Linked DNA regions of Homo sapiens: regions 2, 3 and 4 are each reported to be linked to region 1. Evidence: microRNA targets listed by miRTarBase, many of them from high-throughput screens and not tested one by one. Region 1 holds a microRNA gene; each other region holds the end of a gene's coding sequence.

Region 1 (7,116 bases):
CTGGGGATCAAGCTGCCTGGCAGTGTCCCTGGAGCTCCTGGGGGTGGAAGAGGGCCCCTGCTAGGTGGGATGGGCCTTCGGGGGCCCCTGCTCCTCATGGCACCAAGCATCTGCCCACCTCTGGAGGTTAAGCCTGGCGTGGGAGGAATGGGAGGCCCCCTTACCCACAGGGGAGATGTTTGGGGTCACAGTCACAGATGCTGGGTGGGAGGGGGACCCAGGCCTTGCTGCAGAGCCAGACAGAAGTCTCCGCCATCCCTGGGTGAGGCACTGGGTGGGGGCCTCTGAGCTCCTTTGACCACCCCAGCTGGAACTGGGAAGCTGTGGGCCACTGGGAGGCAAGGGTCCCCACCCCCTCTGCCACCCACATCTGTACTGTGGGCACCTCCATCTGGCCTTCCACATCCTCCCCACCTCCGCATGCTGCAGGGGCTGGGTGGGGGGTGGTCTGCAGCAGACTCCAAAGGAGGCGAGGGTCAAGGGTCAAGAGGTGGTGAGCCAGCTGTTCCCAGATGTGGGCCGCGGCCTTTCCTCTTTCTGGAGGAATGACAGGCCTCCCGCAGAGGAGGAGCGGGTGGTGACGAGGGAGAAGGAGCGGAAAGGGAGGGGTTCTCCACGGGTTCTGTTGATTTGTTTAATCCCACGCTATTCGGAGGCTTTCACGGATGGCGGACAAGAGGGAGGGGGAGGGGGTGGGGGTCTCGGCCCGTGTTTCCTCCCCTCCTCCCGCTCCCGCCCCCGCCGGAGCCACCTGACCCGTAGCGAAGTTGCCGGCCCCGCTGCGCGCCGGCCTTTGTGCGCACCGAGGCGGCCGCCGGGAACCGGGAGCCCGAGCTGGCCCGGCAGCGCCGCCGCCCCCACCTTCGCGCCCCTTTTCACTCCCCCACTGTCCCCGGAGCTGGCAAATAAACAAATCCACAAACAAATTATCCGTGTGCTCCGGAGAGGCGGCGGCGTGGGCGGCGGCGGAGAGAAGGCGCCGGGCAAGGCGAGACTAGGCCCCCGCGGAGCGGGGGAAGCACAGACCCCAGCCCGGGCCCGGCAGCAGTAAGTTGACTTTTATGAAACCTACGAAGCTCGCGGGGCCACCGAAAAGGTCCCCACCGGAGCGGACTCTGCGGGGCGGGCGGGGCAGAGGCTGCAGGCGGGCTCCCCTTCCCGCGCGGCTCCTACCGGCCGGCTCCGCCCCCAAGCCCTGGACGGCCCTTCCCCCAGCCCGCCTGGCTGGGGGCCGCTGCACACCGGGGGTGGAAGTGGGGAGCCGGGGACCCCGATCGCTACTCAGGACTCCAAGAGGGGCCGGGTTCTTCTAGGGATGTACAAAAATCTAGGGTGACCCAAGGGAAGGGGGCGACCCCCAGCCTTCCACCTTACCCACCCCGGCCTGCCAGAGAGCCCTCCGCCAAAGGTAAAGTGGGAAGGACGAAGGTGCTCCGCCAGGTGAGGGAACAGGTCTGCCAGGGGCGGCGATCCACCCTGCCCCAGGTGGAGCCGGTCCTGTACGGAAAAGAGACCCAAAGAAAGATTTGGGGTCCCCGAAGCCAAGGTACCGATGGGGGGTGCTAAGGAGTCTTTCCCCTTAGAATGGGAACAAGCTCCAAGGAGCTGGAATCCCGAGGCGTCCTGGACCCGTCCAGGAAGCTAAGGGTGGGGGACGGGAGGGGAGGGGGCCGGGAGCCGGCCTCCCTGGCCCCAACCCTTGGTGAGAAGAGGGCTGGGGGTATAAAGTCCGAAAGTGAGGCGGAGGTTTCAGGGTTCCGTTTCAACACCATGGACAGCGGATGCCTCAGACTGGGAGCCTAGGACCGCCCTGGGGACTGCCCCCGTTTCATTAGGGTGAGGGTCCGATTCCGACCACTGGAGGCCAAGGGCAACTGTCTCCAATGAAGCGGGGCTGCTGCAGCCTGGCCTCCCCAGCCCTCCAGCCCCTCCAGCGTCCGGCTTGCACCTGCTGAGGCTGCCGGCACCCGCAGGCTTGGGGCAGCTTCCAGAGCTTTGCGCTTGGAACAGAAGGTTCCCCTTGGGCTGTGGAGGAGTAGAGGGCTTGTGCGTGACCTGTGAGAAAGAAAGATTGTCCCTGACACTTGCGAAGGGCGAGGAATTGCGGCTGGGAAGGGTCAGGTTGAAGCCGCACCAAAGGGGGAGGGGCGTCCTGATGGTTGAGGACCGGCGGAGTCGGTGCGGGCAGAACCAACCCGAGTTCCTGCCGCCCTTCCTAACCGGCTGTCCATGGGCTGGGCAGTGCTGGAGAGGGTGGAAAAGGAAGGAAGCAGGACCTGCTCCCAGGGAGGCCCAGGCTCTGCTCCGAGGGCAGATGGCGCAGGGGCTGGGTTGGCCCTAGGAGGAAGGAGATGGGGACAGAGGCCTGCCGGCCGCGCCGGCCTGCGCTCCTTGCAGTCTAAACAAAGGCCAGCGGGGGAGGCTCCGGACGGTGAGGCTTGGGGAAGCCACTGATCCCTGGCCCTAGAGGGCCAGATCGGGGGCGCCCCAAGGACCCTATCGAGCTGGCAGTGACTGCAGTCGGGCCGTGGAGTGTCGCCTGTGATTCCGTGGTCCCTACGGGCAAGAGCTCCCATCCCGGTCTGAAACTGTGAGAACCGCAAGCTCCGATGGGGGCGGGGAAGGACGACCTTTAATTCCCACCCCACTGTACGGAGCCCAGCAGGGCCATCCGCAGGAGGCCGGCGGGACCCTTGCCTTTCTCAGGACTGAGAGGCTTGGAGGACCGCGGTGTGAGCTGCGCGGCAGAGTGCGTTCTGCAGGCGCCAGACAGGAGACGCGAACCCGCGGTCAGGGCCCGAGTGCGGGTGCGTGTCTGCGGGTGCCGCTGGGCTGCGTGCCGGCGAGGCGTGCGCGTGGCGAGGCGTGCGCGTGGCGGGGTGTGGCTAGAGGTGTCAATGTGCAGCTGGAGGGGCTGCGCGCGTGGGTGCAGGAGGGCCATGTGAGGGGCTGGAGTGTGTGGGAGACAGGCGTTTCCTTGGGTCTCCGTGTGGCCGCCGGGCGCAGGGCACGGTCGAGGGCGCTCGATGGCTGAGTCCGCGTGAGCCGAGGAGCGCGCGGGGCGGGACGCGGTGCGAATGCGCGGGAGGCACGAGGCGCGCAGTGCGTGTGTGCGCGTGTGCGCGGCGCGCGTGCCCCGCAGTTCTCAAGGACACCTCGGGGAGGCAGCGGCGGGGCCGGTGTCCGGGTGACGTCACCGCGCGCCCCAGTGATAATCGGCCGGTGCCGGAGCGGAGCGCGGATACGCGCGGAGGCAACGGCGACGGCGGCGGCGGCGGCGGGCGCGGGGACAGTTGCATCGGGGCCGGGCCGGGCTAGCAGGAGCTGGGCGCCTGCAGCGTGGACCCCGTGGACACTCGGCTCGCAGCCGGCCTGCGGCGCTCGGGGACTTGCCTGGCTCCCTTCTCGGGGTTCCCGCGCCCTTCTCCGCCCAGGGCAGCAGCGCGCGGGGCCCCCGGGAGCCGAAGAGCAGGCGGGAACTGGCGGCGGCGCGGGAGGCGCAGGGAGCGGAGGCGGCAGCAGCGGCTCCCGCCGGGACTGGTAATTACGCTCGGGGCCGGGCCGGGGCGAGCCGGGCAAGCGGCCTCTCTGGGTCTCCCCGTCTTTCTCTCCACGAACAGCTCGAGCGCCTTCTCGCGGGCCCGCTGCGCGCGGAGAGGACGAGCTCGCTGGGTTGTAAAAAGAGACGAGTTTTCATCTTTGAGCATCGAGATTCGTTCTTTTAACCGCATTCGGTGCGCGCTCCTGGGTCGGCACGGGCAGGGCGACGGCAGGGGAAGGCAGCTGCGGAGGAGCTCGCGCCGCCCAGTCGGAGCGGTTCTGCGCCCCTCGGAGCCCCGCGGGAGGCGGCCGGGTGCGCACGCGCTCACCACCCCCACCCCCGGAATCCGTCTTCGCGATTCCCGGGCGCCCCAGCTCCAGGAACGCCCGGAGGGACGCACTTGGGGGCCCACTCTCTGCCGCGGAAAGGGGAGAAGTGTGGGCTCCTCCGAGTCGGGGGCGGACTGGGACAGCACAGTCGGCTGAGCGCAGCGCCCCCGCCCTGCCCGCCACGCGGCGAAGACGCCTGAGCGTTCGCGCCCCTCGGGCGAGGACCCCACGCAAGCCCGAGCCGGTCCCGACCCTGGCCCCGACGCTCGCCGCCCGCCCCAGCCCTGAGGGCCCCTCTGCGTGTTCACAGCGGACCTTGATTTAATGTCTATACAATTAAGGCACGCGGTGAATGCCAAGAGAGGCGCCTCCGCCGCTCCTTTCTCATGGAAATGGCCCGCGAGCCCGTCCGGCCCAGCGCCCCTCCCGCGGGAGGAAGGCGAGCCCGGCCCCCGGCGGCCATTCGCGCCGCGGACAAATCCGGCGAACAATGCGCCCGCCCAGAGTGCGGCCCAGCTGCCGGGCCGGGGATCTGGCCGCGGGACACAAAGGGGCCCGCACGCCTCTGGCGTCGCGGGGCGGGTGGGGGCGGCCGAGGGCGGCCGAGGGGGGAGCCTGCGGCCGGGGCCAGGCTGCGGCCAGCCGGCCCCCGGCCACGTGTGTCCGCAGCGCGGAGCGCCCAGGCGCCCGCAGAGGGCGGCGGGGCCCGGGAGACAAAGGGAGGGTCCACGGGGAGCGGCGGGCGGGTGCGTGGGGCGGCGGGCTAGGGTGCGGCGCTGTCCGCGGTGCTGGCGGCGGGGCGGCCCCCGCGGGACGGGAGGGCGGCCAAGTGCGGCCCTCGCCCCCACAGCGGGCGCCCTGGACAGTTGCCACGGCAACGTGGGAGGAGGTGGGGCAGGGTCTGAGGTCACCGCTAAGTCTGCCCTTCCTCGGGCCGCTGCGCCGCGGGGCGGGGCGGAGGCGGCGCTCGCTGTGGCCCCAGAGCAGCCCCCGCAGCCCAGGACCAGGCTTGCATGGGGACGGGGGTCTGCGTCCGCGTCCAGGGTCCAAACGAGGGCGGTGGACACGCCGGACCGCATCCCGCCCCCAAAGCCGGCTCTGGGCTGTGCAGGACCAGGCACGTGAGACTCCGCAGCCCAGGGAGAAAATGACAAATCCCTCCCCCGCCGCCATCTGCAGCCGCAGTGACACCCACTCGGGTTTGCTGCAGGGGTTTTTTTTCTGTCCCCGGAAGCCAGCGCCACCTGCTGACGCCCGGCACCGCCTCTGCGCCGCCTCCCCCGCGCCCATCCCAGGCCCCGGCTGGGCTGTGATGCCCCGGTAACAGTCAGAGGACGACCCCCTCCCCAAAAGCCCCCTTCCCCTGGGGCGAGTGCCAGACCTGGCTTTGCAGCTTTGCCTCTTTCCTCTTAACCAGGTAGAGGCTGAGCCTCTCCTCCCCGGCTTCAATCCGAGGCAGGAGTCTGAGTCACCTGAAGTTCTCCCAGCTCCAGGCCCAAGGCAGGGAGCAGAAGATCAGGATAAAAGGAACCATTTGAGTTTCAGGCAGTGGCATCTCCACCCCCACCACCGCCGCTGCAGGGCCACAAAGGGAACCTGCCTCTGCGGCTGTCCTCAGCACAGACCTCCAGCCCCTCCACCCAAGTCGCCTGCTGCAGACACAAGCAGGAGCCACTGGTGCCTCCATCTTCCCACCCCCACCCCAGTCAGCCAGGCAGAGTCAGAACACGGTCCACCAGTCTCCTCAGGGGCAGGTTCCCCCTGGAGGGCACAGAAGTGGCATAGGCAGCCCCAGCAAGCCCCGGCCTGACCACAACACTGACCCCGGGGCTTGGCGTCCCCTTCTTCCTTCCTCCCGCTGTGAGGGGACAGGCAGCATCCCCCAGGGGCACTTCTGGTCCTAGAGAAGGGGAAGGGGCCCCAGGATCGTTCCAGGACAACACCAAAGGGACTGGTGGGAGTGGGGTGTTCCTTCGGGGTACAAGATGTGGCCCTAGCCTAGCTGGAGCTTCCTCTTGGAGCTCTGACCTCCAGCCTGGCCCTTCCCTCGGAGGGAAGGTGGCCCCTGGCTGCTCCCTCCTCTGGGGCCAGAGATGGGGGCTGGGGCTTTGTTCTTGTACCACTTTCCTTCCTGGGGAGGGGACTTGGCTCCTAGCCAGAATGGACCTTCCATGTCAGTAGCCTGGGGAGGGGGACACTTGAGAGCTGGTGGGAGCGCATGGGCAAACTGCCCTTGGCACTGTCCCTAGACAGTCAGTCTCTGTGGGGTCTCCTAGGAAGAGCTTCCTGGACTCTGTCACGGTCAGGGAGCTACCTCTCCTGATGCCTGCCCCCAGTGGTGCACCTGGGCCCCAGCCCCCAGGGCAGACTTGTGGCTTCTGGGCTGGAGCTCAGGGGGTCACAGGAAGGTGGGCAGCCCAGTAGGTATGGGGCACACGGGGGGAAGCTCACTGCGAAGGAGCTGCAGAGCTGAGTGCGCACCTTCTTGGGCCAGGCCTTACCATAGCTGTAGCACCGTCTGCCGCAGTGCGGGGAGGGCCCCATGTGCCACAGGGTCCACTCGGACCTGCAGCAGCTGAGCTGCTGGCCTCAGTGAGAGGCCCTTGGGGCAGGGGCCACCATCACCATGCTTTGCAGCCAACATGGACTGCCCTGCATGTCCAGCTCAGCCTCTCCTCCTCCTGCTCACACCCGCAGCCACAGTCACAGACATGCTCACACAGTCTCACCTCCCACGCACACACAGACACTGCCCGCCTCCACTCAGGAAGAGCTGGGCACATACCCCCAACTGAATCCTCAGCACCCAGCCTGCATTGGGTCGGCTGCCAGGCAGTGGTCCTGGTGGACAGCAAACTTGAGCCAAGGGCTTGGGACACCCTCTGACCAGACCATGACACCCAGCAAGGCCAGCTCAGGGCTATCCAGCAGGGCCCTCCCCAGTGTGGGACCAGAGGAAGACATCCCTTCCCTGACCCAAAGATTTTTATTCTGAATAAAACCTAATAAAGCTGCTGAGGCTGAAGCCACAGGCCCCACAGTCCCCTCTGAAATTCCTCCAAATCCCCCGGTCCACGAGCAGCAGAGGTGGGAGGAGCTGCAGGGGCCAGGCCACAATCAGCAGGGGCCAGGGCAGCCAGTCCCTCTATTCTGCAGCCCCTGGTCTCCACCTTGATCTCACCTCCAGGTAGGGCTCCCTGTGTGGCCATTGGCCAGGAGCCCCCACCCTCCTTCCCCTCAAGTCCA
Region 2 (7,116 bases), not on the chromosome of region 1:
GAATCTGGAGATGCAAGAGTTGGCGGTAGCTGCGTCCCTGTCACAGACTGGGGCGTCCATTGGCAGTGCCCTGGCTGCAATCATGCTTCTACTTCTGGTGTTTTTGGTGGCTTGTTTTATCAACAGGAAATGCCAGAAACAGAGGAAGAAGAAGCCCGCAGAGGACATTTTGGAAGAATATCCTCTGAATACCAAGGTAGAAGTGCCCAAGAGGCACCCGGACCGGGTGGAGAAGAACGTGAATAGACACTACTGCACTGTGCGGAACGTCAACATCCTGAGTGAGCCTGAGGCGGCTTACACGTTCAAAGGTGCTAAAGTCAAAAGACTGAATCTAGAAGTCAGAGTTCACAACAATTTACAAGATGGAACAGAAGTTTAATGGAGGAGACCTATGTGTATTTTTTTCTAAAATCATTTTTATAAAATGGGGGGAAATACTGGTATTTTTATAATCTCGCAGATAAAAAAGGGAAAACTATAGCTTTGAGTGGCAGACAGCACACATCACATGCATCAACTCACAACTGAGCTACCTCATTCAGCAAAGAACCACTGAGAACCCCAGAGTATTACAGTTATTTCCGTAGATCCCTTTAATAGTGTCAACAACTGTACACAGCTCCTTCTGTAAGGCTGGTCTTAGAAAACAAGTACTTTAGTATCAGGACAGGAGTTGAACAATTAGGTTAGCAGATGGAGATGAGAGGACTGGGTAGAGTACCATGGCAGATCTCAGAGAGAAGAAGTAGGTACGGGCCTTTGGTTCCCTCCCCCAGCCCCAGCTTTCTCCTACAGGGCTTTTCCTGAGTCCCCAGACAGCAGAGTATGAACTGCTGACACCCAGATTCCATTAAAAATTCTGCTAATCGACACAACACATATATTTGCTCATGATTTCACTTGACAGCGTATGCTCCTTGGCCTCTAATTGTACTTTGCTTTTCCAGAGCCCTTTTTACCTGGGGATTTCAGTGTGCTTAAGTAAAATCCTCTGAAAACCACGGGAGCCTCTGCCTCCTCAGCCACAGAGAACTCCCTCCTACAAAGGGGGAGACTGAAACCCGAGTTAAGGAGGGGCCTGGCAGGCGTATCAGAGCACATTAGTGATGCCCTTCACCCCAGGGAGGTGTCTGTTCCCAACTAGTTTATGTGGCACTGAGACATCCATCCCTGACCAAGGATGCTGCGAAACAGGATCAATGTACTACGGCCTTTTAATTCAACATTGCCATAAATGCTTTAAAGAAAACCCACCACACTTTCCTCCTACTCCGGTCTTTGCCCGTTCCTGTAACAGACAATCCCATGTCCTAGGTATGGTTTTTTATTCTGTTAGTGCTTCGGGAAAGTAAGTGATTCATTTGAATAAGGCAAATTAGGAGAAAGCCCAGGTTGGGGTGAAATCAGACTTAACAGATACATGCTGGTTCTCCTTGCTGTGTGTGACACAGCAGACAGAGGCACTATTCCTGGTGCAGTATTTCAGGGATTTCTCTTTGAGGGGTTCTTTTCTGGTAGCTCAGGCAATTATTTTTACCATATCAGCACATGACAAGGCCATGAACACATGGCTCTAAAATAATTTAGTGTTCAAGTATCAGCTTAACTATTTTGTGTAGGCTACACACAGCTTGCTTTTGTTTCTCTTCTGTTTCTGCCTTATTGGCGGAAACATAAGCGTGCATGCCATGTTGTTTTGAATTGGAGGCACAATTTCATTATTCGAGAGTAAAAGACATGTCCTCTTCTGATGCATGGCACACCATAGTCACCAAGCAAATAACAGAGCCTTCACATTGTGTAATATTTGTATGAGAATGACTCAAGCTCTTTGAGAACATTCCAAACTAGTAACATTTCGCTACTAAAAGCTAGAAAGGATGAACTGTGAAAGGTTCTAGGCAGCTCTGTGAGACTCCAAGCTCCTTGAAAGTAGGACCTTTGTGAGCCACGCCTTTCATTCTTCAACAGTGCCTTGCATGTAACAAGCACTCCAGAAATGTTTGTTGAATGAATGAATGGTGTCATGGGTGAATGATGGGGAGTAAATTTAGGAAGGGGAAGTGAGAGAGTATGGTGGCAATATCACAAGGGAGGAGAGAGGAAAACAATTATCTTCTCTACTTGGATTATGAGATAACCTTTTCTTGGAGGAAAGAAACACCGCTTTACAAAGGCATGACTCTGGCGGTGGTCCTAAGGAAGCATGAGCAGAAAATTCATAAAAATGTATCATCAGCAGGAGATGAGACTATGAATTGGCATCCAGAACAGGAGATTTAGAGCAAAATCTAATTTAGCATTCTGAGATGAGTGTCAGGTTTTCAGGAGAGAATGAGTTGGGGTGAGCCCAGAGTCTGAAACTCCTGACTGGTCAGGTGCTACTTAAGACCAGCTTGGGCAATTCAGGGCAGAACTCCTGTATCAGCCTCATGGACACCCAGAATTGGTATCTCATGGCTGGAGAGCTGATCAGCCAGGCACAGAATCTCCAGAACAACCTAGAGAGTGAATGCTAATTTGTAGAGCGAACTTCCATTTGGCCCATTATTTGTAACTGTGTAACTGCTCCAAGTGCCAGAATGCTTACACGTTAAAGCAGCACCTTTCCATTTGCCCACATATTCTTCTTGCACACCCCTTCCATTACTGCTGAATAGGACATTGCATGGGAAGAGTACAGAGGTGGCAGAATGAAGCTAGAGTGGGAAGGACTAAAGACTGAGCCCCAGAGTGCTCCCAGCAACCGCCACGTACAAGGTCTGAAATGACAAGGGCAAGAGTGAGATAGGAAACTGTGTGTGAAAGGAAAGCCCTTGCAGTATTTCTGCCTCCCTTTCTTTCTGCCTTTCACCCCACTAAATGTATGTTATTGAATGCCAGTACTTCTCTAGTGGATGCACACTTGTTAAATAGTGTTAAGAGATGTGGAGATGAGATATACCCCTTTGATGTAGAATTATTCATTTGGTTTGTTTCATACTTCATTATAGGAATCAAGTAATTTGATGACTAATGTGGATTATATTTCAGTCAAAGCTCTGCTTTCAATTTCTCTGATTTGCTCACTAATGCCTTGTGTGTGTTTTACTAACCTTTTATATCTTGCCTTCAAGTGAGAAGGAACAAACAACTCTCAGTGGTTACTACTTGCTTTTATATGCTGGCTGTGAAGGTTAAAAGAAAGAATGGTCTGTACCATTCTGCTTTGCTGCCCTTTTATTGTACCCCAGGCCTCCTAGAGGACTCCTGCAGATTCTATTGTTGGGTGGGAAATAGTGTTGGAATGTGTTTGCACAGTCTTATGATATTCAGTCTCAGTCTGCTATAGGTATTTGTTATTCTTGGATACTACACACCTGCTCAGACTGAGTAAACATTTGTGGTGCTGTCAACCTGATTTCTTGACTCTCAAATGATTTTTGTATTTCCAATATGAATTTGTGTGTTATGAATTTCTGATTTCTCCAATAGTATATGCCACTATATAAATTTGTATTAATAAATGACAGTCTTGTTGGTTTTTTGTTTGTTTTCCTATGTTCTTTTTAGATTATATCTCTTATGAATATAGACATTGCCATTAAGATGCCAAAATTCATTCTAAATTTGAAGCGGTCTTCTGGAGAAAACCCTTCTAATGAGGGTGAATCTGAGACGCTCATTAACTGTGTTCAGAGTAAGATGCTGAATAAATTATATGTTTCCAGATTATCATAGGTCTTTGGCAATCAGTTGAAATTCTGAGACAAAGAGGAATAATTAAAATTTCCATGTGCCATATAATAAGATGATTTTTGTATTTATTATCAAAACTTCTAAAGAGACATGATATAGTATGAGGGTGGCTTATGTCCTTCTGTGCACATGCAAATATTTGAGCATCCATCACTGACCCTGGAAAAGACCAAAGCTCCAAACAAGAGTTTATAGGCTCATGGAAGGAAAAATCAGAGTCAAAATGGAGCTGTACCCAGCTGGTCTTTGCATTCTGCAAGCCTGTGCATTTGTGTGCCTTTCCCTTCTGATAAAACAAATAACTGCCAATAACAGTGACCAGCAGGGCTCTGTTGGCACGTTTGCAAACTCAGCAAGACTTGAGAAAGCATGTTTATAGAAAATCTGGGGAAGGGATGCCACAACCAATCCTGGAAGTTGCTGAGATGCTGCCAGGAGCTTAATGTAAACTTCCAATCCTCACAATTTCCTGTGATTATCCGTTGCCTTAGAGCAGACTCTCTGCCCTGGAGTTCACTTCTCTAGAGTGCAGAGAAGCTGTACCAGGAATTAATCTAAGAATTGTTAGGATTGTCTATAAAAATGCTTCTGAGACTGGAAATGTCATGGCCATAAAATTTAGGGATCTTGAGGAATAGTGGCAGAAAATGAGTTCCCATTTAGAATTTAAAATGCCTCATAGACTGCTTTTGAAGAAATGCACTGGGAGTGGTGGAAGGAGACTATATTTGGAATATGTTATTACATTCAACTACATGAAATTGATTTGATAGGTTAAAAATAGTCCAATATCAATAGTTTTGTATGTCTCAACCTAATATTATGATACCACAATATGTAATAGAGATTCTGTCCCCAAATGAGCCACAGAGAACTCTTAACTAGAACCCTGTGTGCTGAGAGTAGCTAATGCCCCAGGACTGTTACAGGGACTATATCAAATGATATATTGGGCATATCTGGCAATGCTCCGATCAAGAACAATGACTCACTTATATTCTGTACCTCATTCAGTCTTCATAACAACCCCGTGAGACATAGTTGTCCTGGATAAGTTCCTTTGAAAGTTTCATATGAATTTCAGAATTTCAAATCTTTGAAGGCCTTCACAAGCACAACTTGATGTTGCTTTAAAATGGTCCCAACTCCTATCACCTAAATTTAATGCTTGTCATGAAAAATTACATCACTTGATTAATACAACAAAATAGACCTATGCTGCAACCCTCTCTAAAAAAGCTAGCAGAATTTTATCCCTAGGCTCATTTTGGTTTAAGGCCAAGTTCCAAGATTACTCAGCAAGTTATAAAAGTTATTAGAATTTCGGTCTATGGGATAATTTTCATAAATTGTGAAAAACTAGTATCAAGATATCTCAGTTCCAAGACTACTCAGCAAGTTATAGAAGTTATTAGAATTTCAGTCTCTGGAATAATTTTAATAAATTGTTAAAAACTAGTATCAAGATATCTCCCTTAAACATCCCACTAAGGAATGCTTTAAAAATGAACCAGTGCTGGATACTAGCAACTCCCAAGAGTCCCTCTGCGGCTGATTCTGTTGCTGCACACTGAATCTGCCCTGCCCTGTGCTCTGGGAAACCGACTTTTCATCAACTGCTTCTTCAAGGCTCCCTTGCCTCTTGCTTCTGGTTGAGGTTGGCCAAGTGGAACCACTGATGAGAGAGAAGATGATGTGTGTTTAGCCTCCTCCCTGCTTCCTTCTGCCTTGTGATTCTGGGGTGGCTGCATCCCTCCCTGGCCACAGGTGTCACGGGTTCTGATGAAACCCCTTCCCTCCCTTGCCCACGCAAGGCTAGTCATGATTTCATCCTGTCCCTAGTCCTTGGAGACTATATCATCCCTGTGGATACCTAACCGAACTCTGCCCATGCGTTTGTAAATAGCTCCTTTATTTGACTCTTTATTCAGACCCTTTAAGTACTCTGTCTTTCTGTCCAAACTCTTACACAGTCCTTAAATTCAGTGCCATTTGGTTCCACTTCTCTAATGTAAATCAAAATTAAATACTTGAACTCAAATCTTGTCTCAATTTTAAATTTGCTTGTTATTATAAAGAGTGATGTGCTGATAAATGCTTCACAACTGACCTTTCGGGTAAAGGGAAGCTCCATTTACAGTATTTCCTAGTTTTTGTGTTGTATATACTCCCATTATGGCTGAATACAACCCATTAGCATAATTTCACTGAATGTGGAGTTGGGAAGAGATGCACAGTAGTACCACTTTATGCACTATTTTTCTTTTCTTTTTTTTGAGTCGGAGTTTCGCTCTTGTTGCCCGGGCTGGAGTACAATGGCACCATCTGGGCACACTGCAACCTCCGCCTCCCAGGTTCAGGCGATTCTCCTGCCTCAGCCTTCCCGAGTAGCTGGGATTACAGACATGTGCCACCATGCCCGGCTAAATTATTATTATTATTTTTTCTTTCTGTTTTTCTTGGTTTTTTTTTTTTTTTTAAGATGGAGTCTCGCTCTGTCGCCCAGGCTGGAGTGCAGTGGCGCAATTTCGGCTCACTGCAAGCTCCGCCTCCCGGGTTCATGCCATTCTCCTGCCTCAGCCTCCTGAGTAGCTGGGACTACAGGCGCCCGCCACCACATCCAGCTAATTTTTCGTATTTTTAGTGGAAACAGGGTTTCACCGTATTAGCCAGGATGTCTTGATCTCCTGACCTCGTGATCTGCCCACCTCGGCCTCCCAAAGTGCTGGGATTACAGGCGTGAGCCACTGCGCCCGGCTTATGCCCTATTTTCACCACATGGATGCAATAAACACAACCTGGAAAGCATCACTAATAATAAAATGTCCTCTCCCCCTCCCCCTCCCCCTCCCTCTCCCCACGGTCTCCCTCTCCCTCTCTTTCCACGGTCTCCCTCTGATGCCGAGCCGAAGCTGGACTGTACTGCTACCATCTCGGCTCACTGCAACCTCCCTGCCTGATTCTCCTGCCTCAGCCTGCCGAGTGCCTGCGATTGCAGGCGCGCGCCACCACGCCTGACTAGTTTTCGTATTTTTTTGGTGGAGACGGGGTTTCGCTGTGTTGGCCGGGCTAGTCTCCAGCTCCTAACCGCAAGTGATCCGCCAGCCTCGGCCTCCCGAGGTGCGGGGATTGCAGACGGTGTCTGGTTCACTCAGTGCTCAATGGTGCCCAGGCTGGAGTGCAGTGGCGTGATCTCGGCTCGCTACAACCTCCACCTCCCAGCCGCCTGCCTTGGCCTCCCAAAGTGCCGAGATTACAGCCTCTGCCCGGCCGCCACCCCGTCTGGGAAGTGAGGAGCGTCTCTGCCTGGCCGCCCATCGTCTGGGATGTGAGGAGCCCCTCTGCCTGGCTGCCCAGTCTGGAAAGTGAGGAGCG
Region 3 (7,116 bases), not on the chromosome of region 1:
CATCAGCTAAGGTGGGTGGGAATTGGAATTAGTCATGACAGCACACACTTGGCCCACCCTGCCCTGGGGATTCCAGCCCAGCGCTTTTTGCAAGAAGAATCAGGCATGGGATTCCATGGAAAACTGCTTTTGGAAGCCGAGCTTGAAGTAGGGGAGTAGTGCTGTGTGAGTGCTTGCAAGTCGGGGTAGGGCGCACCTCTCATCTACCACCTACTTCCTGGTTGACTTGGGCAAGTTATTCGACCCCGAGCAGCCGTTCTGTGGGCTCTTCCCAGGCTGATGAAGATGCTCCAGAGAGCTATACCCACTGTGAGACTTGGGCTGAGCACTACGTGGGCTGGGGTGGAGCAGGAGTTTGTCCTCATCCAGATGGGCTGTTGAGAGATGGCAGGAGTGGCCCTCAGGGGCTCCACAGGACCTGAACTCCAACAACCAGCTTCTTGCCCTGTTCTAGCAAAAGCGCAAAGGCGTTGAAGGGCTCATCGACATCGAGAACCCCAACCGGGTGGCACAGACAACCAAAAAGGTCACACAACTGGATCTGGACGGGCCAAAGGAGCTTTCGAGGAGAGAACGGTAACATCACTGGCTGGGCCTTGTGTCACGGGGAATACAGGCCAGCAGTTGGCCTGTGGGATGCTAAGGTCCCCAGCTGGCTGGGAGCTGTGGCTGTTTATTTCTGTCTCATTCCCCAATGGCCCTCCAGTAGCCTTTAAAAAGCCACACAGAATTTGTTTTCACCAATTGATACATGATATCAGGGGAAATAGGACAACAGGCTCAGACCTGAGCATAACACTTGAGGTAATGGTGCAGGATACAGAGGGTTGCCCTCCATTCCCCTCTTCCAGAGCACCACACCCTGGGGAGACTTCCCTTACCCCACTGATCTGACCATTCCTGACCTGCATCCATCTGTAATGTCGTGGCCATGGGGACTGGAAGGGGGCTGCGAGCCTGTGCCGGCCAGAAGGCAGTCCAGCCCAGCGCAGCTCAGCCAGCTGTCCCAGGCCTCTGCAAGTCCTGTGTGAAAATGAAGCTGTAAATATCTTCCTCAAGAGTCGTATGAGGATCAAGATCATGTACTGAAGTGCCTGGCACAGGATCAGTCCTTGACTGGTGCCCTGACTTTTGGCAGCCACCAGGTGACCTCAAGGGCCTTACAAGAGGTTGAAGCCTGCTAGTTTCTCTCCTGACTGGGAATTTAGGATAATGGCTGAGGGGTGTGTCTGTGAAAGCCTCGTGGGGAAGGCCATGAGCTTGGGTGTGATTGCAGCTGCTAAGGACCCTTCTGTCCCCCTTCAGTAGCTTCCTCTTGGCATTGACTTCAAAAACCCAGCAACCTGGGTGTTCTGCCACTGTGGTATTCTGCCATTGGCAGCTGTGCAGCCTTCGATAAGGCTGTGCCTTTCTGGGCATCAGTGTCCTCTCCAGTAAAAGGGATCCTGTTGCTCCCTCCTTCTGTCCTTTGGGGTTGCAGAGACACCCTGCCTGGCATTTTGCTTTCACTGAAGGGCCCTGCAGAGTCTTTGGGCTGCCTTAGTCATCATTCCTGAGGCTCAGCTTAGAGGCTTCTGAGTGTGGCACATCCCTCCTGAGCTAGGATCTGCGGTTCGCCAGGTATTATCTCCTCAGCTCTGTAGTGAGGCATCTGCTCTTCCCACTCGGGAGTCCCTCTCCCTCCCCTCTAGCTAGCTCCCATGCCTGGTTTCTCATTACTCCCCAGTTCTGTGTACCTTGAAGGCCTCTGGGAGGCCGAGTCTCTCTCCCAGCCTCCTGCCAGGCAGGGCCCTCCCCTCCTCCAGCACTTGGCTCTTCCAGGAACCCAGTGCAAATAGGCCCTCCGATCTCATCCTGAAGGGCATCCACTCCAGTTCAGAATCTCAAGCTTGGGAAGATCCTCAAAAGGAAGCTAATGACCCTCACCACTGACTCTACTTAGGGGGTTCATTCCTGACACTTTGTCCCATGGGAGCCCAGCAATTATTCCCATCTCCCTACTGATGGGGGCTGTCCCCTTGGGGGGCAGCACCGTGCACATCTGAGCTGCTCTAAGAATGGGCCATGTGGTGTTGACCTGAGACTGGGTGTGTCTGTTTCCCACTGTGGTCCTCATCCTATGCCCTGTGGCTGCTTCCTCCACTTCTTCATTCCTTTTTTTGTTTGTATTTTTTAGAGATAGGATTTCACTCTGTCACCCAGGCTGGAGTGCAGTGGTGCAATTGTAGCTCACTGCAGCCTTGAACTTCTGGGCTCAAGCAATCCGCCTGCCTCAGCCTCCCATGTAGCTGGGAGCCATGCTGCCTTAGCCATGTGTGCCACCACACCTGGCTAATTTTTAAATTTTCTATTTTGTACAGAGTCTTGCTATATTGCCCAGGCAGGTCTCAAACTTACAGCCTCAAGTGATCCTCTTGTCTTGGCCTCCCAGAGTGCTGGGATTACAGGCCTGAGCCACCATGCCCAGCCCTTCCTTCCTTGTAGGATGTGGTCCCCACTGCTTTCATCCTCCTGGTCATCTTCTCTGGAACACTCTTGGCCTGGTCCCCCTTCTCTCCATGGCCGCCAGAGCCTGATCATGAAGCCCTCAGGCATCTTCCCCTCCCTGCTGTAGCTGGACATTGTCCCCTTTCCCTCTGAGGCTTTCTGGACATCGCAGATGTTTTCTCCCTGGGCCTCTCCCTCCTGCTCACTTGCTTGGTGAACGTCCACCAAGCAGGGGGTTCATGGAGGCAGGGACTCACAGCCAGGGCACCCCTTCCACCTCGGCCCTAGGCCGAATCCTTGGCCTTTATTCTGACTCCCGTCCAGTTTGGCAAACAGTGGTAGGAAAGATGTCCCCATGACACCATTTTATCCACACAGAGAAGAGATTGAGAAGCAGAAGGCAAAAGAGCGTTACATGAAAATGCACTTGGCCGGGAAGACAGAGCAAGCCAAGGCTGACCTGGCCCGGCTGGCCATCATCCGGAAACAGCGGGAGGAGGCTGCCCGGAAGAAGGAAGAGGAAAGGAAAGGTAAGGGCTGGGCTGCGCACGCAGGGACAGGCCCCAACTCTGGTCCTGGGCCAGCCACAAAGCACTGAACTCGTGTCCCTGTCCGCGAGGTGACAATGAGGTGAGGAGTGACTGCTGCCTAGGAGGTCGTTCAGGAGAGGGCCACCCTCCCTGTGCCTGCCACTCCCTCGGGGACCAGGAGGGTCCAGCGACATCATGGGGTCGGATGTAGGTTGAAGTCTCAGCAGAGCACCGTCCACAGTAGGTGGACAGTCACTCCTGCTCCCAACAGCGGGAGGTCACAGGAAACCATGCCCCTAGTACAGACCTTGCCTGAGGCTCACAGGTCCCACTAAGGTCTCTGGTGCCTTGGGAACCCAGGAGAGATGCCTGAGGTCACCGCTGTCCATCTGCAGGGCTTGGGAGGGTGAGCTGGATACACAGCAGTGCAGACTGGCTTGACATCCAGCCCAGGCATCCCTTTTCCTGTGCTCTCCCCTCCAGGCAGGCCAGAGATGGTGGAGGTTCCTCTAGGCCAGAGTGGCTATGGGAGTTGGTCCAGTTTATAGGAGCATTCAACTTGCAACATTCCATCTCCCGGGGGTCTGTGAGAGCCCCTACATGTCCATCTGTCCTGCCTCCTCACCAGACCATGAGGAAGCAGGCCTGGAAAGGGGAAACCAATTGCTCAGGGACATTGTCACCCGCACCAGAAATCCAGTGATCCCAACTTCCCATTCAACCCTGCTTCACAAACCCCAAGCAGGAAAGGACTTCACATGTAACTGTTGGAATGTTTAAATTTTAGACTTCAGAACCCGTGGAGGGAGGTTAGAATTACAGGGTTCTGCTGGGAGGTGGGGTGAGAAGTTTCCGTTTGCCCACAAGAGTGTGTGTTGGTGGGGCTTTGTGGAAGGAACAGCTTTCTATAAGGTGGTCTGGCCACTGAAGCGTGTCGGGAATGTCGGGGGGCCCGGGGTTACAGCTGCAGCAGAAATCCTCTCCCACGCCTCGGCTCTTCTCTGTTGCACAGAATGTTTTCTGCAGCCTTTCAGACCTAAAGTTCTAGGGTTCTGGCACGTGTGTTGGGAGGGGGTGGGGGGTTGCTTTGTTTTAACCCCTGCCCTTCTCCCACCCCTCAGCAAAAGACGATGCCACATTGTCAGGAAAACGAATGCAGTCACTCTCCCTGAATAAGTAACTGCGACCCGTGGGAGGAGATGCCGGGGACCTGGGCCGCGCTGCCAGGACCTCTGCTGTGTCTCGCCCACCCTGTGCCCTGGCGCCGCTGCAACAGCCCCTCATGGCCAGGAGCCCCCCATGGCCTGGGGCCTCCTCTTCATCTTGGCACAGAAATTGTTTGGGGGATGGGGGGGGGGACTGGGGGAGGGGTAGCTGCTATCTTTGAGACAGAAAGATGCAGGACAGCATTTCATATGTAACCATTTGAATGTTTTTGCTGTTTTTAGAATTCAGAGCCCTTGCTGGGGGGTGCCTGGGAGATGGGGTAAGAAGAGCTTTCATTTGTCTGGTAGATAGATAGCATGTAAGGGGGTGGTTGTCCCAGGAGGCAGCTGCTGACAGGTTTGCTACACACAGCCCCGGACTGTGTTGCCTGGGTGCTCATTCAGAGAGGGGCTATCATCTGGGAGCCTGTGCCCCTGGGTCCTCGAGGGTCATGGCTTGTCCCTGGTCAGTCCTGTCTGACTGACCTCAGGGCCTCACCTCTCTGCCCTTCCCTGCCCGGTTCCTACTCACCTGGCTAGGGCCAGTGCCCATTTTCAGCCCTACCCATTGATCATTTCAAGAAACCTCTGTTTACTGTGTGGCACCCAGGCAAAACATGCTCCACAAATTCAACTTGTATATTTGGCAGATTAAACTTGACATTATCGTAATCTTTGTTTTGGCAATCCATCCTTTGGCTTCCGTGCTCGAGCCGTTTTTACCCAGCTGGGTACGGTGCCACGTTCAGGCACGTGCACCCGGCAAGGTTCAGGGCACATACCTACCTGGGGCATGACATCTGTCAGGTGGCACCGAGCAGGATGCGGGGATGGACCCTAGATACCACAGCCTGCCCCCTCCCCTCCTTTAGCCAAGTCAGGATCTTAGGCCTCAGCAGGCAGGGACCCTTCCAGGCCACAGTAGGCTGAAGCAGCACCAGGATCCTGGCCTGGCCTGGCCTGTAGGTGTCCCCTGGTGGTTATAATTCTGTAACTCTAGGGGAGAAGGGGAATAGCACTAGCATTGGATGTCGCCAAGGCCCACATTTTCCTGAGAGAAGCCACAAAAGATGTGCAAATGCCCTTCAGCACAGGACCTGGTGACATGACATAAACTCCAAGACAGAACCTCAGTTTACAGCACACGAAAAAAATATCTTGCCAACATTGTAATGACAAAATAAATTCCCGTGAAGTTCCACAACCAGGCCGGGCATGGTGGCTCATGCCTGTAATCCCAGCACTTTGGGAGGTGAGGTGGGTGGATCATCTGAGGTCAGGAGTTCAAGACCAGCCTGGCCAACATGGAGAAACTCCGTCTCTACTAAAAATACAAAAATTAACCAGGCTTGGTGGTGTATGCCTGTAATCCCAGCTACTTGGGAGGCTGAGGCAGGAGAATCGCTTGATCCCAGGAAGGCAGAGGTGGCAGTGAGCTGAGAACGCACAACTGCACTCCAGCCTGGGTGACGAGCAAAACTCCATCTCAAAACAAAAGTTCCACAACCAGCCTGGAGTGTGTAGCCCCTTTGTCCAGGAATTTGACTAGTCAATCAGTGACACCTGGTACTGGCAGTTTTGGGAGTGGCAGCCCAGGATGGACAGCAGTGGGGAGGGAACCATTTGGCATAAGGCCGTTGGGCTTCAGGATCAATTTTGTTGGCAAGCAGTAAAAATAAGCTATCTACCTATGGCCGTGCAAACACCAATCTCTCCCTGGAGTCCCAGCTACTTGGGAGGCTGAGGCAGAAGGATTGCTCCCACGAGTTCTAGTGCAGCCTGGAAAACTTAGCAAGACCCCAAGGAAATAACAAAAAACCTCTCCTTCCACATAGGCAAGCATGTCCATAATTACTTTTTTTTTTTTTTTTTTTTTTACACAGTTGCATTTTATTACCTCCACATTTTGAAGCAGTTCATGACCAGCATAGTGCTTTGGGGGCATTTTTTTTTTTTTTCAATAAATGAAAGCATTTAAGAAAAAGGCACGTATTCCTTGAATAGGTAAGAAAAGCTCCCCATCTGTCCCCTCCCTTTTTGAGGGAGCAGCCCCTATGGGAACTCGTATTGGTACCCCAGAAACATTCAGCAAAGCAACCATTAGCCTCCCTGACCCCTCTCCCCGCTTCCCCAGCAGCTAGGATGAAGGCAACATATTCCTCACAGGTCATTTGATCTTGAGGTCCTTCAAGGCTGACTCCAAGCTCTGCAGGGAGGCAGAACGGACAGGCTGGTTCTCAGCTGTCCTGCAGGCACCCCACTCCCAGGGACCTGATCACCCATCTCAGCCCCAGCACAGCAGAGGGCAGAGAACCTGCAGTTTTGGAGTCTGTCAGCTGGGTTGGAATCCCGGCCCTGAAGACGGGTGCCCCAGTGAGCACCAAGGCCCAGATGTCAAGGGGCCGCCCCCACCCCTCATCCCCATGCAGTGCCATCTCTGCAGGAGTGAAGGATGGGGGTCATCTCCAGGGAGTGGGGATGGGGGGAAAGGGTTGACCTGGGAGGCATGGCGGGAAGCCAGGAGGGGCAAGCCTCACCTTCACATCCCAGATACTCATGCCGCCATCCATGCCAGTGGTGCAGAACTGCGAGCACTTGGCCTTGCCGCCGCTGAGCACCGAGATCTGGCTGCAAAGAGGAAGAGGAGCTTATGAATTCAACCTGTGCTGGCGCTGGGCTCAGGCCCACCCTGTCCACCAGGCGCTCCCAGACTTCTTGGGGAGCGGGCTTTAGTGAGAAGTACCGAGGGGGTGTAGTGGGCTTAGAAGTCAGTTCTGCCTTGGGGACAGTGGCATGCGAGGTGCAGGCAAATGGGACAGGACACTCAAGTCCTGGGAGGCAGGAAAGACACGTGTGTCTGCGGAGTGTACACAGTGCCAGCAGTGCAGCTGGAC
Region 4 (7,116 bases), not on the chromosome of region 1:
GCTAGAATGAGCTATTTCTTTACCCGTTCAGTCTCAAAACTAGATTTCTAAATGGATCAAAGATACAGCTTTTTCTTGTCTTCGTTGAATAAGCAACTAAACCAAAAAATATCTAAATTGACGTTCATGGAAATTGTAACCTTTTCTCTTTGTAGTTCAAGTATTAGAACTTTCAGCAGAAAGAGACTTTTGGAGGTCACAAAAAGTTGATATTTACCAAGTTGGATGATCGTTTTCAGAATATCCTTGACTGCCGGGTGGCTTGGCTGTGAGCAGGGTGCCATGTTGCTGTCCCTTTGTTTCAGGTCTCTCAGGCAGCTGCAGAGCTTCAACAGTACTGTATGCAGAATGCCTGCAAGGATGCCCTGCTGGTGGGTGTTCCAGCTGGAAGTAACCCCTTCCGGGAGCCTAGATCCTGTGCTTTACTCTGAAGACTCGTGAGTAATGATACACCATGATGTCTTGGGCCCATAGCATTATCACAGGGCTTCCCAAAGGACTTGAGCAACTGAGTTTTGAATGTCTCCTATTCTTGGGGAAATTAAAACAAGAGCCAGCAAAATGCACAACTTTCCCTGAAGTGTGATTCTAGTGTATATTTACCTTGCCTGTAGAATACATCTAATCAGGACAGTCTGAAGTCTCTCTGGCACTAAGTCATGAGATGCCAACATCCTTCTGTACTTGAGCTCTTTGAGTTGGCTGGTAGTAATTTCTTCCTTTCTTTCTTTCTTTTTTTTGAGACAGTCTCGCTCTGTCACCCAGGCTGGAGTACAGTGGCATGATCTTGGCTCACTGCAACCTCCATCTCCCAGGTTCAAGCAATTCTCTTGTCTCAGCCTCCCGAGTAGCTGGGACTACAGGTGCCTGCCACCACGCCCGGCTAATGTTTGTATTTTTAATAGAGATGGGGTTTCACCATATTGGTCAGGCTGGTCTCGAACTCCTGACCTCAGGTGATCCACCCGCCTCGGCCTCCTAAAGTGCTGGGATTACAGGTGTGAGCCACCACACCTGGCCAGTAATTTCTTGACCTTAAGCCCACCCTCTCTGTCCTTATAGCATCCAAGGGTTGGGATTTGCTACTTAGTGCTATCAACTGACTTGCTACTCTTGGGAATAAGGACTCCCCAGAGTGGGAGATGTGTGCCTACCACCCGCTGTGATTTCTTTCCCAATGGTTTTCAGAATATATCTCTGTTTTAATGGAGGAAGAAATATAGCTATTGGGAAAAAGTGTGAGTGGGGTTAAAAGAGCTTTAAAAATTGATAAATGAAAACACCTCTCTGGTGGCATATTAGAAACTTCTTGGGTTCGAATGCTTTGTATTGGGGTCATTTTCACAATGTGTTTCCCCCCTCATCGCCGAGACATCTTGCTCTGTCACCCAGGCTGGAGTGCGGTGGCGCGATCTTGGCTCACTGCATCCTCTGTCTCCTGGGTTCAAGCAATTCTCCTGCCTCAGCCACCCGAGTAGCTGGGATTACAGGCGCATGCCACCATGCCCACCTAATTTTTTTGTATTTTAGTAGAAATGGGGTTTCACCATGTTGGCTAGGCTGGTCTTGAATTGGCTGGTCTCAAACTCCTGACCTCATGATCTGCCTGCCTTGGCCTCCCAAAGTGCTGGGATTACAGGCGTGACACAATGTTTTTTTAAGAGGACAAGGGCATGAATTATTAGAGTCTTTTGGGACCAACATATTTCAAATGATGTGTTCTAAGGGGTGTTTATACAGTGAGTAATTATCTTAGGTCCTTCTTCACAAGTAGCAAAAGGAAATTGTTCACATTTAAAAGAAGGAAGCAATCTATCAAATCTTATTGTACTTTTTAATGGAAAATGTTCATATTTATGGTGTTAAGATAATAGTCTTATGTTGGCATAGCATTTTTCTTTTTACAAAGCTTCCTTCTTCCCTCCCCTCCCCTCCCCTCCCCTCTTCTTCCCTTCCCTTCCCTCCTTCTTTCCTTCCTTCTCTTTATTAAATTGAGATGGAGTCTCACTCTGTCACCCATGCTGGAGTGCAGTGGCACAATCTTGGCTCACTGCAACCTCCACCTCCCAGGTTCAAGTAATTCTCCTGCCTCAGTCTCCCGAGTAGGTGGGACTGCAGGTGTGCAGCACCATGCCTGGCTAATTTTTGTATGTTTAGGAGAGATGAGGTTTCACCGTATTGCTCAGGCTGTTCTCAAACTCCTGACCTGAGGTGACCTGCCTGCCTCGGCCTCCCGAAGTGCTGGGATTACAGTCGTGAGCCACTGCGCCCGGCCTTACAAAGCACTTTCATGGGTGCTGCTCATTCAGTGGTGTGGTTTAGATGTCTTTTGTATTCACCTGTTACTTTCATTTTTTTTTTGTTTGAGACGGAGTTTTGCTCTTGTTTCCAGGCTGCAGTGCAATGGTGCGATCTCAGCTCACCACAACCTCTGCCTCCCGGGTTCAAGCGATTCTCCTGCCTCAGCCTCACTAGTAGCTGGGATTACAGGTGCCCGCCACCATGCCCGGCTAATTTTTTTGTATTTTTAGTAGAGGCAGGGTTTCTCCATGTTGGTCAGGCTGGTCTTGAACTCCCAATATCAGGTGATCCACCCACCTCGGCCTCCCAAAGTGTTGGGATTACAGGCGTGAGCCACCGCGCCTAGCTCACCTGTTGCTTTCTATTTCGTGAATACTAAAGTACCCTATTAAATGATGACTAGTTAATTTTATAAAGAAATCTTACTAAAGTGAAAACCAAACAAACTCTTTTTCCAGTAGGAGAGAAGTTTGCTGAGGAATGCCTTCAAGCACAAAGTGATGAATGACTGCCTTCAAGTCTCAAGAAAACACTTTTCCCTAACTTTTAGAGATATTTCAGCCCTTTCCTGTGGCCTGGTCCTATAGCCAAAATCACAGATATTCATGAGTTTCTACTTGAGTGAGAAAACTGGGTGAAGGAATAGAATTTTAAATAGTAATAACTGCTTGTTTTTTTTGTGCAAGTACTTTTATACATAAGATAAACAAAAACCTTACCACCAAACATACCAAAATGCACCTCTTTCATAAGTGAGTTACTAAGATTTCTATACCTGGAATATCATGTATGTTTCATTTACTGGATGTTTACATTTTAGGAAGGAAAATAGTTTTGTTTATTTAAACAACTGAATACTTATAAACTGTTGTTCCTGGAAGTTATTTATTCCATAAAAAATTTGTTCTTTTGTCATGAATTTATAATTCCTAAATGAAGACCAGAAAGTACAAATTGCTGGGAGGAAGAATAGGCTTTATTAATCAACTGATGTCTTGATTTTTCTAAATGGGAAGATTGCTTTATTTTTAACACTAATTATGGGAGCAGATTCTTAGCAAACTTCTTTGGAAAAGTTAATGTTATGATGTGCATTAGGCTGCCCCATCGTGTATATAAATGAAGCAGATTTGATTTTTGTATTCTTACGTTTCTCTGCTTTGTAGTTGTGGCTGTACTTAAAGAAATACAGAATTTCATATATTTAAAAATGTTTAAAATGTGACCCACAGAACATTGTAAATGATTAAAAACTAACATGAAAATATTACAACCTAAAAGAATTCTTAACTTCACAAGTGTTTTACTTCGACGATGTGCCTTTGATTTAATTTGGGACACTTTTTTAGAAGGATACATTATTCGTGTTTGCAACGGTCTTTGAAGAGCTTGGAAATAAAATTTCTGCTTAATTAATCATTTTTCTATGACAGCAATATTTTGTGTCTGATTTTGTATTAAGGACTCAAGGATTTCTGTTTGCCTGTGAGATTGAGTGCTGGAATGAGAGAGTGAAATTGTTGTTTTTAAGTCTTTGTAGAATTTTGCAAATGTCCTGAAAAATAGATAACTGTATAACATGAAGAAAATATCTCTATTAATGGCAACATTTGTTCTCTGAAATAGCTATATATAAACTCATAAATAAACAAAAATATCTGTGAGTGTAAGTAGTGTTACAATAGAGAAAATAGAAGTTATTAGATGGGAACTCCCTTAACTTTTAGCTACTAAACTTCTAGATCTAGTGATTGGAATCCCTTCCATTCAGTCATAATTCAGGCATCCCTTTTATAACCTATTTGTTCTCTGGATCTGTTTCACCTTCTCTGAAATTGCACACTACCAGTGATCCTTTCTCCTTCATCTTCAAGTTCTCTGCTGGATGCTTTATTTTCTCTTTTCTTCTCTTCTCTTTTCTTTTTTGAGACAGGGTCTCACTTTGTCACCCAGGCTGGAGTGCAGTGGCGCTATCTCGGCTCACTGCAGCCTCAATCTCCTAGGTTCAAGTGTTCTTCCCACCTCTGGCCCCCAAGTAGCTGGGACTACAGGCGTGAACCATCACACCCGACTAATTTTTGTATTTTTTGTAGAGATGGGATTTCGCCATGTCGCCAGGCTGGTCTTGAACTCCTGAGCTCAAGCCATCCACCCACCTCAGCCTCCCAAAGTTCTGGGATTATAGGCGTGAGCCACTGTGTCTGGCCTCCAGTGGACCCTTTCTATCACAATTTAGCATGTTCCATTCTGTCTTAACAACAACAGCATTTTTTAAAATCCTCATTGAAAAACAAAATTCTTTTTTGATTCCACTTTCCCCTTTCAGCAAACATTTGGTAAGATAGCACAATGAAACTATAAGCATCTCACTTATAGATGAATATAGATGCAAATGTCCTAGATATAAACAGATAAAATTCAGTAGTTAGAGAAAGTACAGCCGGATAAAACTACTTTAACATAACTAAATCTATCAATGTAATTCATTACTTGAATCACTTAAAGAAGGGAACCTATGCCAAAAAGTCATCTGATAAAATTCAATAGCTGTTCTGGGCTAGGTACAGTGGCTCACGCCTGTAATCCCAGCACTTTGGGAGGCCAAGGCAGGCAGATCATGAGGTCAAGAGATTAAGACCATCCTGGCCAACATGGTGAAACCCCGTTTCTATTAAAATTCAAAAATCACCTGGGCATGGTGGCACGCCCCTATAGTCCCAGCTACTCGGGAATCTGGGGCAGGAGAATCGCTTGAACCTGGGAGGCGGAGGTTGCAGTGAGCCGAGATCACACCACTGCACTTCAGCCTGGCAACAGAGGGAGAGACCCTGTCTCAAAAAAAAAAAAAAAAGCTGTTCTGAATAAAAACTAAGTGGATTAGTGAAATGAGAGTAGAAAGAAATTACTATGATGATAAAGACAATTTTTCAAAGCCAACAGCCAATATCATACTACATGGTGAAAGGCTGACACATTCAGATTATCAGGAACAACACAAGAATACCTTTTATCACCACTATTATTCAGCATTGCTTTGGAAGTCTTAGCTAATGCAGTAAGCTGAAAAAATGAAATGATGTAAACATTTTAGAAGAATTATCTGTATTTATGGGTTATATAATTGTACACCTTGAAAACTCGTGAGATTCTCGTACAAGAAATACTTGAATTTATAATAGAATTTGGGAAGCTAGCTGGATAAAAAAGACAGAAAAATAACATTTTCTATACTGACAATAGCTAGTTTAAAATGGAAATGGAAGTTATATTCCCTTTCTACTTTAATGATACAACTATAAAAATACTTGGGAATAAACTTAACAAAAGTGCAAGGTCCCTAAAAAAGATTTTATTGATGTTATAAAACGGAGTGTAAATAAATGGAGGGACATGGCAATTCTAGGATATTAAGACAATTTTGGCCAGGTGCTGTGCTCACACCTGTAATCCTAGCACTTTGTGGGGCCGAGGTGGGTGAATTGCTTGAGATCAGGAGTTCGAGACCAGCCTGGGCAAGATGGTGAAACCCCATCTCAACAAAAGATGCAAAAATTAGCTGGATGTGGTGGTATGCACCTGTAGTCCCAGCTACTTGGGGGACTGAGACAGGAAAATCGCATGAGCCCAGGAGGTTGAGGCTGCAGTGAGCTGTATTCACGCAACTGCACTCCAGCCTGGGCAGCAAAGTGAGAATCTGTCTCAAAAAAACCCCAACAAAAAAAGACAATTTCATTAAAATGTCGATCTTACTAAATAAAATTTCTGCTTAATTAATCATTAATCGTGTGTGTGTGTGTGTGTGTGTGTGTGTGTGTGTGTGTGTGTGTAAAACATGAGGAGGGGGTGGGCATGGTGGTTCATGCCTATAATCCCAGCCTAGGCAACATAGTGAGACCATGTCTCTATTTTTTTTTAATTAAAAAAAAAAAAAAAAACCTCTTGTAAAAATCATTACAGAGAAAAAAAAAAAAAAAAGCAGAGCCAGGCATGGTGTTGTGCACTTGTAATCCCAGCTACTCGGGAGGCTGAGACAGGAGAATCGTTTGAACCTGGGAGGCAGAGGTTGCAGTGAGCCAAGATCGCACAACTGCACTACAGAGAAAACACCTGCCATGTATAGGAGAGATAATGGGCTAATATCCCTAATATACAGAATATTCTGATTGCATGATGAGAAAAAAATGAGTAAACGGTGTGAAGAAGCAATTCACAGAGGAGAAAATCCAAACAAAAGAGCACATAACTCCACTAGTAAGCAAGGGAAATGTAAAGACGGTGATAATGAGGTATCATTTTTCAATCCCTCAAATTAGAAAACAAAAAATAAAAGTGCATATTCATTAAGAACTTACATGCCATGTTCTGAGTATTTATGTGTATTAGGTCATTTACTCCTTATTGGTGTGACCTTGAACAAATCAAATTCTCTGGGTCTCAGTTTCATCACCCATAATTATTTTTTAAATTTGGATAAGAATATCTGCTTTATCTCCTTTGCACAAATGTGGAAAGTGAGGCGCAGGTGAGTTGAACATCGTCCGTAAGCCAACAGTTAATAGATGATAGAACTAGTATCCAATGTCGAGCAGTCTAGCTCTAGAGCCCACACCCTAAACCACTGTGCTGTGTACCATTGCTGGTAAGGATAAAGGAGACTGGGCAGTTTTATACCTTATTAGGGTGTAATGTGCTACAACCCTTTGGGAGAGGAATTTGGCAAAATCTCTTTAAATCCCAATCAGAAAGAAATAAGATTTGAGGAGTCTGAGATCAGATTAACCCTCATGGCTTCAACTTAACTGTCATTCAGGTTTG

Evidence for each region. The annotated mature microRNA hsa-miR-124-3p reads UAAGGCACGCGGUGAAUGCCAA and lies in region 1 at 4,208-4,229, shown strand. An mRNA with a match to its seed (bases 2 to 7 or 8) in the 3' UTR can be bound and repressed. Matches are read on the target gene's strand: a 7mer-m8 pairs with bases 2 to 8, a 7mer-A1 pairs with bases 2 to 7 and ends in A, and an 8mer does both.
Region 2: miRTarBase lists FRAS1 as a target of hsa-miR-124-3p. Seed matches in the 3' UTR shown: 7mer-A1 at 1,659-1,665 and 7mer-m8 at 1,974-1,980.
Region 3: miRTarBase lists ARPC1B as a target of hsa-miR-124-3p. Seed matches in the 3' UTR shown: 7mer-m8 at 6,205-6,211.
Region 4: miRTarBase lists GNG10 as a target of hsa-miR-124-3p. Seed matches in the 3' UTR shown: 7mer-m8 at 3,618-3,624.

The regions. Positions count from the first base shown.
Region 1 is chr20:63,174,345-63,181,460 of GRCh38, forward strand. MIR124-3 (microRNA 124-3) reads left to right here and starts at 4,156; the gene lies at 4,156-4,242. RefSeq lists enhancers at 1-502, 3,403-4,363 and a silencer at 4,651-4,940.
Region 2 is chr4:78,540,743-78,547,858 of GRCh38, forward strand. It overlaps FRAS1 (Fraser extracellular matrix complex subunit 1), which reads left to right. Exons shown (of 74, transcript NM_025074.7): 74 at 1-3,527. The coding sequence ends at 382. Among named protein-coding and RNA genes, the nearest start is that of ANXA3, 7.5 kb to the right of the region's middle.
Region 3 is chr7:99,393,763-99,400,878 of GRCh38, reverse strand. It overlaps ARPC1B (actin related protein 2/3 complex subunit 1B), which reads right to left. Exons shown (of 10, transcript NM_005720.4): 9 at 6,760-6,850; 10 at 6,063-6,428. The coding sequence ends at 6,390. PDAP1 (PDGFA associated protein 1) reads left to right here. Exons shown (of 6, transcript NM_014891.7): 4 at 455-576; 5 at 2,866-3,017; 6 at 4,139-6,206. The coding sequence ends at 4,197. Among named protein-coding and RNA genes, the nearest start is that of PDAP1, 11 kb to the left of the region's middle. RefSeq lists an enhancer at 6,372-7,043.
Region 4 is chr9:111,666,510-111,673,625 of GRCh38, forward strand. It overlaps GNG10 (G protein subunit gamma 10), which reads left to right. Exons shown (of 3, transcript NM_001017998.4): 2 at 306-437; 3 at 2,760-3,717. The coding sequence ends at 431. DNAJC25-GNG10 (DNAJC25-GNG10 readthrough) reads left to right here. Exons shown (of 3, transcript NM_004125.4): 2 at 306-437; 3 at 2,763-3,717. The coding sequence ends at 431. Among named protein-coding and RNA genes, the nearest start is that of GNG10, 8.5 kb to the left of the region's middle.